Homo sapiens: one gene and its partners. The protein of the gene in region 1 interacts with the protein of each later gene in a pairwise test. Each region holds a gene or a part of one and is shown on either strand. Other genes may lie near its edges.

What was found. Proteins that work in one complex are often made in the same cells at the same time.
Region 2: the proteins of WAC (region 1) and KLC3 interact in binary tests that used the Homo sapiens proteins (3 or more experiments, as listed by UniProt).
Region 3: the proteins of WAC (region 1) and BACH1 interact in a two-hybrid assay, tested with the Homo sapiens proteins (one large-scale study listed by BioGRID and IntAct).
Region 4: the proteins of WAC (region 1) and DYDC1 interact in binary tests that used the Homo sapiens proteins (3 or more experiments, as listed by UniProt).

The regions. Positions count from the first base shown.
Region 1 is NC_000010.11:28,538,923-28,544,120, reverse strand, and holds part of WAC (WW domain-containing adapter protein with coiled-coil), read right to left. Parts: intron 1-5,198.
Region 2 is NC_000019.10:45,342,870-45,348,067, forward strand, and holds part of KLC3 (kinesin light chain 3), read left to right. Parts: intron 1-2,664; 5' UTR 2,665-2,672; coding exon 2,673-2,930; intron 2,931-3,674; coding exon 3,675-3,905; intron 3,906-4,577; coding exon 4,578-4,647; intron 4,648-5,071; coding exon 5,072-5,198. UniProt on the Homo sapiens protein: Kinesin is a microtubule-associated force-producing protein that may play a role in organelle transport. Plays a role during spermiogenesis in the development of the sperm tail midpiece and in the normal function of spermatozoa.
Region 3 is NC_000021.9:29,304,542-29,309,739, reverse strand, and holds part of BACH1 (transcription regulator protein BACH1), read right to left. Parts: intron 4,537-5,198; exon of another isoform or gene 4,418-4,536; intron 1-4,417. UniProt on the Homo sapiens protein: Transcriptional regulator that acts as a repressor or activator, depending on the context. Binds to NF-E2 DNA binding sites. Plays important roles in coordinating transcription activation and repression by MAFK.
Region 4 is NC_000010.11:80,345,938-80,351,135, forward strand, and holds part of DYDC1 (DPY30 domain-containing protein 1), read right to left. Parts: intron 1-5,198. UniProt on the Homo sapiens protein: Functions as part of axonemal radial spoke complexes that play an important part in the motility of sperm and cilia. Plays a crucial role during acrosome biogenesis.

The DNA of each region.
Region 1 (5,198 bases):
ACATGAGGCCAAGAGTTCAAGACCAGCCTGGCCAACATGACAAAACCCTGTCTCTACTAAAAATACAAAAATTAGCTGGGCGTGGCAGTGCGCACCTGTAATCCCAGCTATTTGGGTGGCGGGAAAATCACTTGACCTGCAGAGGCGAGCTTGCTGTGAGCAAAGATTGCGCCACTGCACTCCAGCCTGGGATGACAGAGTAAGACCCTGCCTCAAACAACAAGTACAACAACAGCAACAACAAAAAACAAAACAAAGGAAACCAATTCTGGAAAGATTACAGAATACTAATTATTTTATGGCATGAGAATGTTTTCTATGAAAACTAGTGATTAACTCTTAAATGAGAAGATACAAGGTGACTTTCTTTTTCCCCTTTTCTCTGCATTTCCTAATTTTTCTACAATGAGCGTGTACTAACAAAATTTTAGTACAAGAAGCACTATATAGCTCAAGGACCCATTAACTCCAATCTTGCTTTGCATAAATATGGCATTTCAGAAGTCAAGCATACAAAATACTTTCCTTAGAGAAATAAAAATATATGTAAAAGCCAGACAGGCCAACAGGGCGATCACATTCCTCAGAACCGCATTGTCCAATTCAATAACCATCATTCACATGTGGCAATTAAACACATGAAATGTGGCTTGTCCAAACTGAAATGTGCTGTAAATGTTAAATAGACACTAGGTTTCAAAGATCTTGTACCAAAAAGGGAATGTAAAGTATGTCATTATAGTTTTTAAGGTATCAATTACAAGTTGAAATATTTTTGATATATTAGGTCAAATAAAATATACTAAAATTGAATCATTTTTAGTTTTTAAGCAAAGCTACTAGAAAAGTACACATATGGTTTGCATTTGTGGCCAACATATTTCCACTGGACGGTGCTGCTATAGAACCTTGTTACTCTAGTGAAGTGTAGGTATCACCCGAGATCTTGTTAAAAGGCAGATCTTTGGGACCCACCCCAGAATTACTGACTATAGTATCTCCAGGTGCTTAGTATACACATTCAAGTTTGAGGAATGCTAATCCAAAATACTATAATTTCATTCCCCTTAAATTATAACAATCCAAATTTTTTTTATCTATCCATTTAGTTAAATGCTATAAAGTTTCAGGCACTATTCAAGGTAACAGGAATACAAGGTGGATAAAAACATTAAAACTCTCACTTCCTCTTCTGGTGGAGCTTATATTCCACAAAAGGCAAGCAAACAAAAACTAAAATACAGTCAGTTCTGCTATAACATTTGTTTCCAAATAGACAAATTTGTTTGAAGGCTACTGATCTATCAGAAACCAGCAAATTTCCCACTTATGTGTATTTTCACCTGTGAGAAACACTAGCTACATCAAGCTGCACAGGAATTTACAAGGCAGACACAGCTCAAACATCTAATAGCTATCTTAGTTCATCATGAATTATGAGTCAGGTCCATCCACATTTGATGTTACAAGTTTTTGTCTCGTATCAGGTATCTTCCATCCATCACTTTACAGTAATTCATGAACTGCAACCCTTCCAATGAGTGGCCACTTTCACAAGAAGTCAGGTTTTGGTCAAGGTAAAGTGCCATTTATTGCGGTGTTATTCTTTAACCATTTTATACGTGTAAAACTAAGTTACAATTTTTATTAGGTTCCTATCTTTTTAAAATGTGTCACTGACAATGTTTTTGGTTACTGTGCTCCTAACTCCATTTTCCCCATAAATTGGTCTGGTGCAATGTTGCACAGCACCGTGACTTTCAGAAATGCCCATGTCATGTTATAGCAGAATGACTATAAGTAAATCATAACAGGTCACCTTCATACAAGGAAGGAACACGCAGGGGCAAGGAAAGACAATGATGAGAATGACTGTTTCAGAGTGTTCAGCAAGGGCAGAGAAGGCCCTGTGAGAGGGTGACACTTAAGCAGACACATTACTGAAGTGAGTGAGCACAGTAGGAGAAACATAAAGGCACATAATGTGCAGAGCCCCTGAGACAGGAACAAACTTCTGCCTGCAGGGCCAGTATGGAGAGAGTAGCACAAACAAGGGGAAGATAGTAGAAGAGGCTGAAAAAATACCCAGACACCAGATTACACAGGATCTATTATAAGATTTGCTAAGAAACAGGGAGTCACTGGAGGGCCGTGAGCTTGAGAGAGATGTGAGGTGACTGGCATTTTAACTGGATCACTCTGGCTACTGTGTGGGGAAACAATCATACAAAGCAAAATGGACTCGGGAACACTAGGGGGCTCTTGCAGAATTCAAGCTAAGAAAAGGTGGTAGCCAGAACTAAAATGATAAAATAGTGAGAATTAGTTATACTTGGAGTATAATTTGAAGGCAGAGATAAAATTTTATGTGAAGAGACTTCCTTTCCAGTTTCAACAACAGTAGGCTAAATACTTTATAATTTCATCAGTACAACAGGAATAATACTGATCAGCCTATTTCAAAGAGCTACTGTGGAGTCAGATGAGAAACAATATAGAAACCCTTTGAAAATTATAAAGCATCATACAAATCCTGAAAAGGACTGTTCATAGAATATATTTGCAAGCCCCAAATAACCAAATAACTGATTTTGCCAGGGGGTGGAGGTTGCAATGAGGTGAGATCGAGATCGTGCCACTGCACTCCAGCCTAGGTACAGAGTGAGACTGTCTTAAAAAAAAAAAAAAAAAAAAAAAAAACAAAACACACACACACACAACCCCACAAAAATTGGTTTTGTAATTATCAAATTGACAATGAGTTATATCTAGTGCCTGGTATAGCATCCCAAATGCCCAGCTTATTTCCATCTTCACTCTTTCCAGCATCATAACAAAATGATGCACTACCCCCCAAACAATTCTGCACAACAGAATAAGGTAACAGATGCTTAATAGACACAAATTAGAATATATAAATTTTCTGTGAATTACAGACCAAAACCCCAAGTATGTTACACCAAAAATTTTAAATACTTCCTGCACAACTAGAAAACAGTTCAATTAAGACTGTCTTAAGGATCTAAGGATCTAAGTGAACTCATTCCAAAATACTGATTGTAAAATAGAAATACCATTAAATTATAAACAATACATAATAACCATCTCTCTAAAAATATAAAAAGTTAAAATGTGATTATGAGAAGCGTAAGACAAATGACTTGGTACTAGTGTTCAAATTTAACAATTTACATGCACAGATGCTTACATCACAGACACTGTTTTCTAAAATTAAAAAAAAAACAATGAAGAGTTGAAACATTAAGACTGCTACTCCTTCAATCTTATTCCACTTCTCTTGAAACAGAGTATGTTTCCTGTGTTTTCTAAATTGACCAATGGAAATCCAATGCAAACATTTCTGCATAGTATTATCACAAAGCATAAATCAATGAAAAAAGGTCATGTGTCACTATTTTTACTAGACAAAAAATACTTAACATCAGTCAAACGTATTATTAAAATCCAAACGTTAGTGTATTATATTCTATGCAATGTTTCCACTTCGTAAACAAGTCTTTAAATATGAGGGATTAAGAGAAAATGGACTTTTCCTAGTGAAATCTGTGTCATGCTTCCATGTCAAAACTTATTTTTGAAAATAAAACACTGATGTGATAACTGCGCCTAGAACTACACAAATACATCTTATCAAGGTACTATAATTTGGCAAGTTGTAACCACTGAGGGAAGAAGGGTGAAGATATTAGCAGGATAAAAGCAAAAATGCCTTCAAACTAATTCATGCCATAGTAACCACCACCAAATAAGCTTTCAATACCCAAGTGTTTAATCTCTGACAGCATACAAGTTACCGAAGTTAGAGAACTAGTTTCTAGACTGAGCTGTTGCTCTCTGTTCAATTTTATTAAATTTTCCCTCATTTGTAAAACTGGAAATAAGGATACTATCTGTTGTCTTCCAAAGTTAACATGAGTATCAAAAGCGACTGTTAATTTGTATACTTACTTTCTATACAACATTTCTAATGTTAGTAATTTGTAACATTACTAACTCAAAGCATATTTCAAAGTCATCTAAACAACGGTAAGACCATGTTGCTCAACTGCCAGTCTATTATTCAATGTGAAAGACTCAAACGTTACTAAATTATATTAAAAAAAGACATTATCACCAAATAATCCCTACTAATTCCTTCAAAATGTTAATAGTAACTTTTATTTGAAAGTTAGGGAGATGAAAATACATTTCCAAATTTTTCCAAAGATATAGCTAAATGACAAAATAAAAACTTCACTATGGGCCAGGCGCGGTGACTCACGCCTGTAATCCTAGCACTTTGGGAGGCCGAGGCAGGTGGATCACTTGAGAGCAGGAGATTGAGACCAGCCTGGCCAACTTGGTGAAACCCTATTTCTACTAAAAATACAAAAATTAGCCGGGCATGATGGCGTATGTTTGTAATCCCAGCTACTTGGGACATTAAGGCAGAAGGATCGCTTGAACTCAGGAGGCAGAGGTTACAGCGAGCCAGGATCACACCACTGCACTCCAGCCTGGGCAACTCTGTCTCCAGAAAAAAAAAAACCAAAAAACAAACCCTAACGATTGTACCTTAAGGTTTTTGCTTTTGGTTACTTTAAACAAGATTGTATGTTTTCAGACAGATCACAGACTATATAAAAATAACTCATTTCACAAAAAAATATTTTAATTATACTCTCACATAACCTATCTTAAATTTACAATAGACATTATTTCCTTTAATAAATCCTAATGGATAAAATCTCTAACTCTAAACTATACACGCTATGTTACAGCAAGTCTTATTTTAACTAGCAAGGTTTTTGGGAATAAAAACCTTCACAATCCCTGATTTCTCACTTTTTATATTGTATCTGCAAGTCCTTTCATACATTACTTCTGAACGAGCATTTTTCAATGAAATCCAAGATGCTAAGAAATCTAGTAATTACTGAAAAATGCTGTGATGCCAGTAAAGCCTAATCCTAAGGTAAACAAACGCACAAGTTCCACATTTAACTTGCTTTGTAAAATGCAAGTTACAAATCATAGCATATAGGTTATTATTAGTAAAGAAAATCATTAAATCTTAAAATGAAAAACTGGGAAATTTGAATTCAGTAGTTCAATGCATATAGTAAGTAACCTGCTGTAATCTTAAGTTTTTTACATGCTTAGAGCTTAGATAATCCAACTCACTTGCATTTGATTTT
Region 2 (5,198 bases), on another chromosome or scaffold:
TGCACAAAACGTACAGGACCCTTACTGTATGTGATCGTGCATGTACAACATGTGCAAAAACCGCTGGGCTGCTTATGGTGGATGCAGTGGCTTGAGTGAAGTGTGCGAGAACGTGGCATCCCTCCACGCGTATTCACAGCTCTCTGTTCCGACAGTGGAGCTGAATCTGAGTACTTGTGTGTGCATGGCGTGTAGGTGTGGGAGTCCCTGCTGGCCAGGCCTGGAGTGGGAGGGAGAGGAAGTAGGGAAACTGGCGAGGGATCCATAGTGAATCTTGGGAGTGTGTGCATCTGGAGGTGCGTTGGGCACATTGTGGGGAGTTGGCTGCTTGGGAGCCATGTGAGTTCGGGGGACAGCGAGTGTCACGGTCAAGTGCAAGGAGATGGTCTGAATGTGAGTGATTTGGGGAGTGGGAGAGACAGAGTTAGTTTCTGCGTGGGTTGGCTTTTCTTTCTTTTTTTTAAATAATATTATCACTTTTTGACACGGAGTTTTGCTCTTGTCACCCAGGCTGGAGTGTGGTGGCGTGATCTTGGCTCACTGCAACCTCCGCCTCTCAGGTTCAAGCAATTCTCATGCCTCAGCCTCATGAGTAGCTGGGGACTACAGGCGCATACCACCATGCCTGGCTAATTTTGTATTTTTAGTAGAGCCGGGGTTTCACCATGTTGGCCAGGCCAGTCTCAAACTCCTGACCTCAACTGATCCACCCACCTCGGCCTCCCAAAGTGCTGGGATTACAGGCGTGAGCCACCGCGCCCAGGCTTGGTTTTTATTTCTAAGAGAATATACCTGTGTGTTGGGAGTGTATACAGATTGTTTTTGAAAGAATAGTATATGTGTGTGCCTGAGTCAGTGTGTTGTCTTAGGTTGTATTTCTAAAAGGAAAATGTAAATGTTTTTACTGAGTTGTATATTTAATAGGAGAAAGTGAGTGCGTGTTCTAAGAGGAGAATGTATATTATGCTGTCCTTTCTTTCTTTCTTTTTTGACTGGGTCTTACTCTTTCACCCAGGCTGAGTGCAGTGGCACTATCATGGCTCACTGCAGCTTCAACCTCCTGGGTTCAAGCAATCCTTCTACCTCAGCCTCCAGGTACACCATCACCACACCCAGCTAATTTTTTTATTTTTATTTTTGTAGGGATGGGGTCTCACTATGTTTCCCAGGCTGGTCTTGAACTCCTGGGCTCAAGTGATCCTCCTGCCTCAGCCAAAATCCCAAAGTGCTCGGAGTACAGGTGTGAGCCACCGCACCCGGCCTACATTGTGTTTCTAATGAGGGAGTGTGTGTGTGTGTGTGTGTGTGTAACTGTATTTCTGGGAGGGTGTGTGTGTGTACCGTCTTTTTTTTTTTTTTTTTTAAATGAAGTCTCACTCTGTTGCCCAGGCTGGATTGCAGTGGTGCGACCTTGGCTCACTGCAACCTCCGCCTCCCGGGTTCAAGCAATTCTCCTGCCTCAGCCTCCCAAGTAGCTGGGACTACAGGCATGCGCCACCATGCTCTGCTATTTTTTTTTTTTTTTTTCCAGTAGAGACAGGGTTTCACCCTGTTGGCCAGGCTGGTCTTGAACTCTTGGCCTCAAGTGATTTACCCACCTTGGCCTCCCAAAGTGCTGGCATTACAGGCGTGAGCCACTACACCTGGCCCCATGTTGTATTGGAGAGAAGGGAGAGTGCGTGTGTGTGTCAAATTGTATTTCGGAGAGGAAAATGTGTATGTTGCATTGTGTCTTTAAGAAGGGAGGGTGCGGGTGTGTGAGGTGTTTCTGAGGAGTGTGTTTGTGTGTATATGAGGACCCCAGAGGCACCACCAGCTAAGTTTCTGTGACCTTGTCACCCACATACAACCACATGAAGTCCCATAGAGGGGGGCCCCCACCCACTATGAGCTGGGCTTCAGACTCTCAGCTGTCACATGGCCAGTGTGACATACCTGGACCACACCTATCACACGTGTGTCCCGACAGGCCCTGGGCTGGCTAAGCTTGTCCGATGGAGGAGGGCGGAGCCCCTGTTCCCCCAGGGTCCATCTGTTGCCTGGGAGCCAACACATGGCCCCATCCTCATTCCCCCCAACCTAGAGGCCTCCTGGGCTTCTGGGGGCCCTGGCCCCTCGGCCCTCTCCTCCCACCCCACCCACCCCCAGTGGTCTGACTGGTTCCCGACAAAAACACCCTAAGAATGAGCTCACGCAGAGGCTGCCGCCTCCACACGCCCCGCCTCACTCTGCCGGCAGAGGAGGGTGCCTCTGGTCCCAGGTCACACGGCCAACCGGGAGCTCTGGGCCAGGGGATCCAAGGGCCTTGGGGTGGGGAAGGCTGGCCAGGTGAGCTGAGGGCAGATGGGGGACCCCAGGCTAGCTGTTTGCTTTCTCTTGGTTAATTACACATAGGATTTGGGAACTGTCCTCAGGGCAGAACCCTGGGTTGGGAGGACAGACGAAGGTAGACAAGACTGTTCCAGATGAGAGCTGGCTGGGATGGGTGTGGAGACTGGGATGGAGAGGGTGTGGAGGCAGAGGGCTGGCCAGGATGGGTGGAGCAGGGAAGAGCCAGGATGGGGAGAAGTTAGGGGTCCTGATGGCCATTATGGGAATAGAGGCTGGGGGCCAACTGACTGGCCCGGGCAATGATTCCCCAAACCCCTCACCATTGCTCCCCAGGAGCAGCAATGTCTGTGCAGGTAGCGGCTCCTGGAAGTGCAGGGCTGGGCCCAGAGCGCCTGAGCCCTGAGGAGCTGGTGCGGCAGACGCGGCAAGTGGTCCAGGGGCTGGAGGCGCTGCGGGCAGAGCACCATGGCCTGGCTGGGCACCTGGCGGAGGCCCTGGCGGGACAGGGCCCGGCAGCCGGCTTGGAGATGCTGGAGGAAAAGCAGCAGGTGGTGAGCCACTCGCTGGAGGCCATCGAGCTGGGGCTGGGCGAGGCCCAGGTATGAGGGGGCCAGGTGGGGAGCTGGGGGAAGGTCAGCTGAGGGCGGAGGGAGGGCCAGGCATGAGGGGGACAGGTATGTAGGGGACTGGGAGAGGGTTCACTATTGCAGAGGGGCACACTTTGGGAGGCTGAGGTGGGCAGATCACTTGAGGTCAGGAGTTCAAGACCAGCCTGGCCAACATGGGAAAACCCCATCTCTACTAAAAATACAAAAAGTAGCTGGGCATGAGGGCTCCTGTAATCCCGGCTACTCAGGAGGCTGAGGCATGAGAATCGCTTGAACCTGGGAGGCGGAGGTTGCAGTGAGTGGAGATCGTGCCATTCCACTCCAGTCTGGGTGACAGAGAGAGACTGTCCCAAAAAACAACAGAAAAAAGTATGGCAGAGAGGCACATCCGGGGCAGGGGGAGGCCTAGGGGAACCAGGCCTGGGAAGGGGAGGCTCCAGGTCAGAGATGGAGTCCCTTGGCAGCTTTAGGGGGTCCTTGTGTGTGACAGGGACCCCTGAACCAGATGGCATTCTTCAGTAAACTGTGGGTCCTAGGGCAAGTTTGGGGGTAAAATCAGAGGGGCCCCTGGGAGCCTCTGAGGGCACTGGGGCCATGTTGGCAGAGTCTCTGCAGAATCTGGGGGTGTCGTGCATAGTAGTGGGGTGCTACGGCCTGACTCGAGGCCTGGGCTGGGTCAGGGGCCGTCTGGCAGGGCAGGAACCAACCTCGACTTGGGACCCCCACCCCGGGCAGGTGCTGCTGGCCCTGTCGGCACATGTGGGTGCACTGGAGGCAGAGAAGCAGCGGCTGCGCTCGCAGGCCCGGCGGCTGGCCCAGGAGAACGTGTGGCTGCGGGAGGAACTGGAGGAGACGCAGCGGCGGCTTCGGGCCAGCGAGGAGTCCGTGGCCCAGCTGGAGGAGGAGAAGCGCCACCTGGAGTTCCTGGGGCAGCTGCGACAGTACGACCCACCGGCGGAGAGCCAGGTGCCACGGGCAGGGCGAGGCGGGGGGTGCTGGGCCCTTCATAGAGCCCCACAGTCCCCCAGACCCTCCTTAGAATCCCACAGTCCCCAAGATCCTCCTTAGAATCCCACAGTCCCCCAGACCCTCCTTAGAATGCCACAGTCCCCCAACCCTCCACAGAGCCCCCAGACCCACCAGAACTTCCACAGACGCCCCCACTAGCTACTCCACGAAGCCCCCGAGCCTCGCCAGACCCCCAGGGGGCCTCTGACGCTCGTGACCACCACCTCCCTCAAACCTTGAGATAGGCTGGGTGCGGTGGCTCACGCCTGTAATCCCAACACTTTGGGAGGCCGAGGCGAGCAGATCACCTGAGGTCCGGATTTCAAGACCAGCATGACCAACATGGAGAAACCCCGTCTCTACTAAAAATACAAAATTAGCCGGGTGTGGTGGCACATGCCTGTAATCCCAGCTACTCCGGAAGCTGAGGCAGGAGAATGGCTTGAACCCAGGAGGTGGAGGTTGCTGTGAGCCAAGATCGCACCATTGCACTCCAGCCTGTGCAACAAGCGAAACTCCGTCTCAAAAAAAAAAAAAAAACAAAAAAACAAAAACCTGAGATAGAGCCAGGGCCCCGGTCTCTGAAACAAGCCCCCACCACCCCGGCCCCCCACTTTCCTGTCTCTGCAGCAGTCTGAGTCCCCGCCTCGCCGAGACAGCCTGGCCTCCCTGTTCCCCAGCGAGGAGGAGGAGAGGAAAGGTGGGTGTTGGGAGTACATGCCACAGAGGATGGCAGGCCAGGGTGGGGAGGGGGCTCTGAGCTGCAGGACCCCAAAATCTCTGAGCCAGGGGATGGGGAGGTGAGGGCAGGGTGAGGAGGACCCTGAATGTGACAGTGCAGGTGAGGCTGGGAGCCACAAAGACAGGGTAGCCGCTATGAGCCTGGCAGGCCCCGTATTCACATCCCACAGGGCAGGTGGGCTGCCGTGTTCCTGTCCCGAGGCCAGGATGCATCCCACCAGCTGGTTAGATGCTAGTGACTCCTATCTCAGAAGTTAGCGTGGGGGCCCATAGTCCCAGGGGCCAGTTAGGCAGTCCGGCAGTTCTGAGGCACGTGTCCCCTCATGCGAGGCTGGAGGGGCAGGAGGCTTGCAGTGACCCAGAGCCCACCCCACCCCACCTAGGTCCTGAGGCCGCAGGAGCAGCAGCTGCTCAGCAGGGTGGCTATGAGATCCCTGCCCGCCTTCGGACCCTGCATAACCTCGTGATCCAGTACGCGGGGCAGGGCCGCTATGAGGTGGCGGTGCCTCT
Region 3 (5,198 bases), on another chromosome or scaffold:
TCTTCTGTAAATTACCTGGCTTAACACTTCCTATAATAAAAATTCAGTTAAGCTTAATAAGGATCTCAAGATAAAATGAAAATATTAAAATTGCACAAGTCTGCCCAAAATAATGGCTAATTTCACAGACCTAAAGAATTTCCAATTAAAAAAGCACATTCATCCAGGATGACCCGCTTCTGTTACAGATAAGGAAACTAAAGGCTTGAGAAGGGCAATAATTTAAAGACTGAAAAAGTCTCTGCTCCCAGGTCCAAATATTACATTTCAATTCATGTTACATGACTCAAGTGGTATGTGGGGGAAGAATAGGTAAAACTGAGGAGGGATGGAAGAACAAGGAGTTCAAGAAATACCCCAAGTATCCTGTGTGTGATGAGAAGGAACACTATTACACAAACAGATTAAATGGGCATTTGTGGAACAACAAATTTCCCCTTATTAATCAATATTTGGTGAATCTTTCTTTTTTTTTTTTTTTTGAGACAGAGTCTCACTCTGTCACCCAGGCTGGAGTGCAGTGGCACAATCTTGGCTCACTGTAACACCTGTCCCCCAGGTTCAAGCAATTCTCATGCCTCAGCCTCCCAAGTAGCTGGGATTGCAGGCGAGCATCACCACGCCCAGATAATTTTCATATTTTTAGTAGAGACAGGGTTTCACCATGTTGGCCAGGCTGGTCTCGAACTCCTGACCTCAGGTGATCTGCCTGCCTCGCCCTCCCATAGTGCTGGGATTACAGGCATGAGCCACCACACCCGGGTCTGGTGAATTAATTTCTAAATAACACTCACTAGATCATATAACCAATCTCATGCATCACTGAAAGGAACCTGACACTAAACTGTGCTCAACTTAAATCATCAAGGTCTATAGTTATACATACTACATATGGACAACTAGAAGAAGAGAACACTAGGAAGTATTTCACTACAAGTTACTTTCAATACAGAGGATTAAGCATCCATGTTCTATTTTCATAATGAAATAAAGATTCTTCATATGCCATCTTGTTTTTTAAACTGTAAAAATTACAACCATAATTCATATTCTTTAGGAGGCGAAAGCCCTAAAACTAGTTGATGGCCAAAATGACCCCCTGCAGGTTTAAGAGTTGACACACATAGTATGCATAGTAACCGAAAAGATAAAATAAACAAAAAAAGTGCTCTTCAAATTCCTAACTATACACCAACTCACAATAAAATTTGAGTCAAAAAGGGGGGTGAGGGTGGAGGGAGGTGCTTAAGAGTATAAAAAAGAATGTTAACAATTTTAATTAAATAAAACAGAAGTTACCGTAGGGCAATCAGTATATCATATGAATCACAAATTTGAAACTGTTTTATTCAAGTAGAGATACTAAACTGAAATGTCTTATTTAAAAACAACCTAATCCACTAATCCCTAACAGCCACCGTAGGGCCACAGTTTCTCAATATACATAGCTAAAACTAAAAACATAAGTCTATTTTTTACTATTTAACTTGGGAGTCAAAATAATCATTTCTAAAATGAGGATTTCCAAGCTACAGATTTGCACCAGTGATCTCAGTAACTACTTTTCATTATATCATAACCACAAGATTCAGCCAAATAAGGAACAATTTGCAGCCTATAAATAAAGCTGAAATATAGCTCAGTTTAAATAGCATCTGAGGAACTACTGAGTAGGGAAATACTATTGCATTTATCTGAGACAAAAATTATATTGGTAGTACAAGTCTTTCTAAATTCTATCCAAAAAACTAATACCAGTTCAGAAGCCTACTCTGGCCATTTATCACAGTCTATTTGTTACTCTCAAAAAGAAACAACCATTGAGCAATTCTCATTTTGTAAATTTACAACACTCAAGTGTTTAGGATTTACATTATTTGTCTGCCTTTCACAGCACAGAAAGCACCCAGACCTGCGATTGAGAAGGAACAAGAATGAAATACAAAAGTGCTTTTACACAGTGATCATACTTGTAACAACATACACAGGTGTCCCCCTTATCTACAGGGGATACATTCCAAGAACCCCAGTGGATACCTGAAACTGCAGATAGTAACAAACCCTATATATATACTATGCTTTTTCATCAAGCACAGTAAGAGATTAACAATAATAAAATACAACAATTATAACCATATACTGTAATAAAAGTTATGTGAATGTGATGTTTGTCTCTTTCTCAAAATATCTATTGTATTTAATATTTTTGGACTTCATCTGACCACAGGTAACAAACTGCTGAAAGTAAAACAGTGGGTGGGGATCCTACTGTATTTCAAAATTGCTAAGAGAGTAGATTTAAAGGTTCTCACCACACACACACACACACACAAAGGTAAGTGAGGTAATGGACATGTTAATTAGCTTGATTTAATCTTTCTACAATGTACACATACAGCAAAACAGAAAAGTTAGGAGTACTACAAGAATACTGTATAAACTTAAGGTGGCATTAATTTTAAAGTCTGAAAAGAATGACGAATAAGCTAACTACGGGACAGCTTTCCCTTCGAGGAGGGGAATGAGTGTGTAGAAAAGGGAAGATGTTCCTGTTTGTACTCCTGATTCAAGAATTTGCATTCTAAAGAATCCTGACCCATCTAGCCAATGAACTAACAATTCTATCTGAGCCAGGCTGGCCTCAGCACTCAGTGCAAGCCATAGAGACCACAGGTGGGTGTGCACTATGGACTGAGGGACAGAGTAGTCCTCTTAGTATACACATAATCAGAAACTACAAGATATAATTATATGTTCTCCTCTCCCTGAAAGGAATAAGACAATGGCAGGGAACTTTTGAAATGTTTAAAGCATTGAAAAAAAAAATTATTTCTTCTATATATATTTATTGACAAAATTGGCATTTTCAATTTTTAAATAATTTTTAAATAAACCATTGATTTGATTTGATTGTAAAAGTGCTACTTGATCATAGAAGGAAATGGCATATAAGAGGAAAAAAAGTCACCTAAAATTCCAAATCCAAAGGCAAGCACATTTTCTTTTTCTCCTCCGAAGTTTGTATCTAAGTGTAGTGGTGGCAGAACTAGTAGACAAGGATGTCACTGTTAACTGCACAACACCATTCACCCCCTCACTTTCTAACCAAACCCTGACTGTGCTCACGTATCTACTCTCAACCCGAGGCCATCAACTTCCAAGGAAGTAGACCCCAGCCACAACCTAAGATGAATCACGATCCATTTATGCCAATCACAGCGGTACTATTCCCCTTGACCTTGACTCATTTAGGCACTGGCTTGTGTGCAATGCTGACCTATGAAGAGAGGAGAGAGGGACAAGGTAGCATCTGCTATGAGGCTTTAGGGAAAAATTTTTCTCACTGATAGCAACAACCTAGGAAAAAAAAAAAAAAAGTGTGTCTTCTTCCAGGAAACTTAAGTCATATTTTCTTGTGACACTTGAACTTGTGGCAGCCATCTTGCAACCATAAGAGGAACTTGCCAAGGACAAAACAAGGACGTTGCCTGCATCTTCAACCTTTTTCCATTGACTGGATTTTTAAATACACACACACACACACACACACACACACACACACACACACACTCTTCCTGACCCAACTTCTCCCTACTAAAATCTATTTCTCTCTCCTCTTATTCACAGCTAAGCTTCTCAAATTGAGTTGATACAAGTTGTTTCCTCCACTAACCTATGCATTCATCACTAAACATCCCTAAGGCTTTCTTGATTTCCCAAAACTTAGGCTTTTAATAGTCTGTGGTTCCACAGCACATTTTACATGTTGCTACTATAGCATGCTATGGGAATAGTTTGCCTGTCTATTAGACTGTAACTTCTGAAAAGTTCATTATTGCCAATATCTGGAAAAGTTCCTGGCTTATAAAAGCCTAAACATTTGTTTCATAAGTTAAATGTAAACCAAATGCCTAACATGTAGGAATGCCACAAATATTGACATGAATTTAGCAACCCTACTGTCCACATACACTGAAAGTTAAGTATGCGTTCATGTGAGTTGGGGGAGAACAGCAGCAGGAACAGGGAGAAAAGAGAACACAGTGCCTTAGCCTTGAAACTTAAAAACACAGTTTTTCCTCACTCTTCAGAGATTAGAGAGCTGTTCCAAGCTAATTCAACAAAAAAGAAGAGGCTGTTTCCACACTGGCATCTGAGAAGCAGTGGTAGGATAGCTCTCTAGAATCTCAGCTCCTCTGCTATTTGTGACCACTGTTGCCAACCTGCTCAAAGAAGAAAAGGTGGCCCAGCCTTTCTGGGGTCTGGAAAAAGACAAACTAGTCCAAAGACAGGAGGCCCTCAGAGACAAAATATACTTTTTAGAAATCTAAAAAAAAATACCTATAGTTTGAATAGCACTTGTGACAGTCTTTTACCACAAAGAGACAACGAAGTAGGGAAAGTTAATCGTAATTACATGCTCATCCCCAAGCAGCATTTCCTTTGACTTCTCTGGATGACAACTGAAACTGAAGGCATGCCAGCAAAGAATCCGAGTGAGCTGGGCAAAATGCTCTCTACTTCAACAGTCTTTTGCTAATGTGAAAGAAAAAAAAAAAAACAAGATTACAAAAGCCAAAAGCTTTTTTTTTTCTTACCTCTTTTAACCTGAATTATGACTCTTACCTAGGGGAGTACCCAAGGCCAGGCTGAGATACACCTCAGAAAAACAGTTGATAAAGAGACATCAGGTACACTGGAAATTGAAGAGGCCTGGGCCAAGATCAGATAACCACTGTACATTTTTTAAAATAATATTTAAATATAAAATACACATTAATGAAATTACAACCTAATAAATTTATTCAATCTTTTATAGCCACATATTTTATAACAAAACTGTCTGATGGATGAGCAACTGCACTAATTTAGCTGACTTCTGAAAGACGCTGGCACACTTTAGAAAATGAATAAGGCAATAAGCATGTGAAGATATCAGTAAAGAGGAAGTTGGGTGGATAGGTCGCCCTATTTCTTCAATAGGACCCTCAGGAGTTCACCTCCTTAGGACAAAAACACCTCCCTAGGGTCCTGGAGGCAGACAAATCAATAAAAAGAAGAGATAACTGGAAAAAAGGTGTGTAGGGGGAGGGAGGGACATTTCCCTTACTATACTATTTACTCTACAGCCTTAGAGGTAGGCTATTACTAATGTCCAGGCTACAAAGGAATTGAAAACCTTTTTTAGTGTAATTCCA
Region 4 (5,198 bases), about 52 Mb from region 1:
CTCAATTAATCCTCCCACCTCAGCTTCCTGAGTAGCTGGGACCACAGGTGCATGCCATCATCATCATGCCTGGATAATTTATACATTTTTTCTAGAGATGAGGTCTCCCTATGTTGCCCAAGCTGGTCTCGAACTCTGGACCTCAAGTGATCCTCAGGCCTCGGCCTCCCAAAGTACTGGGATTACAGGTGTGAGCCACTGTGATCAGCTCACAATTTCTTTATCCAGTCATCCACTGACAGACATTTATGTTGTTTCCAAATCTTGGCTATTGTAAATAATGCTGCAATGGACATGGGAGTGCAAGTAGTCTCTATAAGGTGCTGGTTTCATTTCCTTTGAATATATACTGAGAAGAGGAATTACTGGGTCATATGGTAGCTTTTAATTTTTTGAAATACACCCATACCATTTTGCATAATGGCTGCGCCAATTTGTATTCCCATCAACAGTGTAGAAGAGTTCACTTTTCTCCACACCCTCACCAATGTGTGTCTCTTCCCTTTCTTTTTTTTTTTTTTTTTTTTTTTTTTTCTTTTTTGAGACGGAGTCTCACTCTGTCACCCAGGCTGGAGTGCAGTGGCGCGATCTCAGCTCACTGCAAGCTCTACCTCCTGGGTTCACACCATTCTCCTGTCTCAGCCTCCTGAGTAGCTGGGACTACAGGCGCCCGCCACCACGCCCGGCTAATTTTTTGTATTTTTAGTAGAGACGGGGTTTCACCATGTTAGCTAGGATGGTCTCAATCTCCTGACTTTGTGATCTGCCCGCCTCAGCCTCCCGAAGTGCTGGGATTACAGGTGTGAGCCACTGCCCCCGGCCATGTCTCTTCCCTTTCTGATAACAGCCATCTTAGGCTGGTCACGGTGGCTCATGCCTGTAATCCTAACACTTTGGGAGGCCGAGGTGGGTGGATCACCTGAGGTCAGGAGTTCAAGACCAGCCTGGCCAACATGGCGAAACCCCGTCTCTACTAAAAATACAAAAAAAAAATTAGCCAGGTGTGGTGGCGGGTGCCTGTAATCCCAGCTACTCAGGAGGCTGAGGCAGGAGAATCGCTTGAACCCAGGGAGCAGAGGTTGGAGTGAGCTAAGATCACGCCACTTCACTCCAGCCTGGGTGAAAGAGCGAGACTCTGTGTCCGAAAAAGAAAAAAAAAAAGCAGCCATCCTAATAGGGGCGAGGTGGTATCTCATAGTGGTTTTGATTTGCACTTCCCTGATGACTAGCGGTGTTGAACATTACTTGTCACTTTTGATAATATACCTGTTGGCCACTTTTATATCTTCCTTGGAGAAATGTCTATTTAGGTCCTTTGCCCATTTTTTAATTGGGATCCTTTTTTTTTTTTTTTTTTTTTTTTTTTTTGCTATTGAGTTTGCATTCCTTATATATTTTGGAGATTAACTCCTTATCAGACCTTATCAGATATATGGTTCACAAATATCTTCTCCCAATCCATAGGCTGCCTTTTTGTTTTGCTGATTGTTTGCTGTGCAAGAGCATTTTAGTTTGACCTAGTCCCATTTGTTTAGGTTTGCTTTTATTGCCTGTGCTTTTGGTGTCATACCCAAAAAATTATTGCCAAGACCAATGTCAAGGAGCTTTTTCTACATTATGTTTTCTTCCGGGAGTTTTACAGTTTCAGGTCTTCCATTTAGGTCTTTAATCTATTTTGAACTGATTTTTGTGTATGGTGGAAGACAAGGATCCAGTTTCATTCTTTTGCATGTGGATATCCAGTTGTCCCAACACCGTTCATTGAAGAGACTATCCTTTTCCCTTTGTGTTTTCTTGCAGGGCTTGTCAAAAATTAGTTGACCGTATATACTTGGGCTTATTCCTGGGTTCTCTATTCTGTTCCACTGGTCTATGTGTCTGTTTTTATGCCAATACCATACTGTTGTAATTACTATGGCTTTGTAATATAATTCTGGATCAAGTAATTTGATAGTTCCAACTTCGTTTTTCTTTCTTAGGATTGCTTTGGCTATTCAGGGTCTTTTGTACTTCCATACAAATTTTAGAATTGGGTTTTTCTGTTTCTGTGAAGAATGCCATTGGAATTTTGATAGGGATTGAGATGAATCTGCAGATTACTTTAGGTAGTATAGACATTTTAACAATACTAACTCTTCTGATATATGAACACAAGATATCTTTCCATTTATTTGTGTCTTCCTCAATTTTTTGCATTAGTGTTTTACAGTTTTCAAGGTATAGATGTTTCACCTCCTTGGTTACATTTATTCCTACGTATATTATTCTTTTTGAAGCTATTATAAATAAGATTGTTTTCTTGGTTTCTTTTTCGAGTAAGTTATTGGTAAACAGGATTTAAATTTTTCTTAATGAGAAGAAATACTCCCAACCACTATTATCAAACATTAAATGGCTTTGGAAATTAGCTTTGGCTGCAGACTTGATAATGTTTCTTAATTCATTTTAAAATTACATGGCAAAACATCACTCATATGTAAAACTTACACTGCAGTAAACTCACTTCAACAACAGCTCATGTTGTTTGAATCACAAGTAACGTAAAGCTGCTTTATACACGTCCAGTGCTGTCAAAACTAGAACAGGATATTAGATCTCCGTTCCCAAACAAATTGTCAGTGGATGTATTTTCCAACCTCGAACTACAATTCCAGAGTGTTTGTAAGGCCTCAACGTAAGTGCAAAGGAAATTTCCATATTCTGAAATCCATTTAACTATGCAATTAAGAAGCTTCCATCAACCTTCAGTTGGAAGTGGCTATTCTACAAAGTAATGCATGCTAAAAGGCAAACAGCAAGAGAAAAACAAAATTCTAGAAATACCTTCTAAGGAATGAATATGCTTAATTTAAATTATACACACATAGACTGATAGCAACTTTTGACAGTAACTATGTAAAAAGACATTTTCAAGGATGAAATGCATAAAACCTCATTACAGATCAGCATTAGCAGATAAACTTTTTTTTTTTGAGGCGGAGTCTCGCTCTGTCGCCCAGGCTGGACTGCAGTGGCGCGATCTCGGCTCACTGCAAGCTCCGCCTCCTGGGTTCGCGCCATTCTTCCCCCTCAGTCTCCTGAGTAGCTGGGACTACAGGAGCCCACCACCACGCCCGGCTAATTTTTTGTATTTTTAGTAGAGACGGGGTTTCACCGCGTTCGCCAGGATGGTCTCGATCTCCTGACCCTGTGATCCGCCCGCCTCGGCCTCCCAAAGTGCTGGGATTACAGGCGTGAGCCACCGCGCCCGGCCCGCAGATAAATATTTTAAAATAGATTTTGATGATAGACCACACTAACGCTGAACTTCAACCAAGTGAAATGTTATCTTTTAAAAACTTTTTTAAATTCTCAATAGTAAACCTATCTAATAAAAAATTTATATTCAGTGATTATTATTTGAATTTCATCAATAAAACATTTGCAAAAATTCATTTTCTCTCTTGTTATTCCTACATAATATGCCATAATGCCTTCATAATATCATCAAATTTGCCTCTTGGCCTGTAAAGCATAAAATGTCTACTATCTGACAATGCATTCTAAAATAATAAATTTTTACAAGTAAAGATATAATAAAGTGCTTGATATTTTATTTGCAAAAGCTTTTAAAGGTAATTTCTTAGTATTCCTATATTATCACTACTAAGATAAAAGTGATGGGGTAGGTAGCTGAAACGCAGAAACAGTTTCAATCAACTTTCAGACATTGGTAGAGGAAGTTAAATAACTCCAATCTCTCAACAATAATGCAAAGTGTATTTGTTAAATAACAGTCAGATTGATCAAAACAACCAGCTTCTTGACATTTTCAAGAAACTTCCAAAACCTAATCCCCTTCCTCACACATGAGCAAAACCACTGAAAGCCATTCAAAACAAATAAACAAAAAAGCTCTTACTTCAAAACTAAGCTCTTACATAGAAAATGGCAATAAAAATACTTCCCTGTTCACAAAAAACTAGGCTTGTGGAGAGTGCCTAAAATATCAAGGAATTTCAAGTCAGTGGTACTGACTATGAGGACAACTGCTTTTGCAACCAGCAAGGAAATAACCAGAGTTCCCAACCTCCAGCTTACATGACTCAGAAGGCACCCAGAGGCCTCTCTGTTTTTCTTCATCTCAGCCACACTCTCTCAAGCCTTTCTCTGTTGATCGATCTCTCCTATCTATTTCTGCACACCAATCCACTCCGCTAACTGGCCATAACATCTCCTGTATAATATTATTTTCTCTTCCGCCCTACTACAATACTTAGGATTCAATGCACAGTGGATTAGTTCATACCGGTCAACATAATATGGCTAGAGAAACTTGTTATTGCTAGTATTGCCAAATTATGCATAAGTAGGATAAAGTAGTCGAGCCGAAGAGAGTTATGTATCTCCCACTTACGATGTAATTGCCTAGGGGAAGGAGAACCTCTGGGAATTCTCTTATTTTTGATAGACAGGAACAGATACCAGCTATAGGAGCTGTAAGAGGAAGGATGGCTCCTCATCCACAGTTGTGGCTGCTGCAGGAAGCACCTGGCCTGTTTGGATGACAGTTGACACCCAACTCAACACTTTTTAACCTCCCTTCAAGAATAAGCCAATGACTGAAAATGAAGACTCAGAAGGAGTAGAGTTTTCAACAGCCCTATCCTTCTAAGGGGCCTGCAGTTTTCTACCTCAATATCAGGGATAGGAGGTTAGTCAGAGAAGCTATTTGCCAGGTCTATATTTTTCTTTCTATCCACATACTCAAATAATAGGCTTCTTTCCCCTTTTTAAATATGTAAATTTGAGTCAAGACTCTGGGGTTAAGTATTATCTGGTAGAACTATGGAAGTGGCTTAAATTTAGCTTAGAAGCTCTCTATAAATTAAATCAGTCCAGAAGCCATTCTGGAACTTTCCTCTCTCCAGCTTGTACTCCATGACCCATCCCTTCAACAATTCCCTTACCAATATCTTCAGCTCCCTAATCATGCTACCCCAATCCTGCTTCAATTAAAAGGTCTGCCTGCTCCACTTCTTCACTCAGACATCTGGGCCCAAGTGAAGAGAATCACATCATCACATAACCAAATCAAATGGCACGATTATCAGTACTTGATCTTCAACTGCTACCAAGTAATGCTAAATTATATCCCTCAACTCTCTCTTCCATTCTCCAAAGCTGTCATTTCTAACTTCACCACTCTGCCCACACCT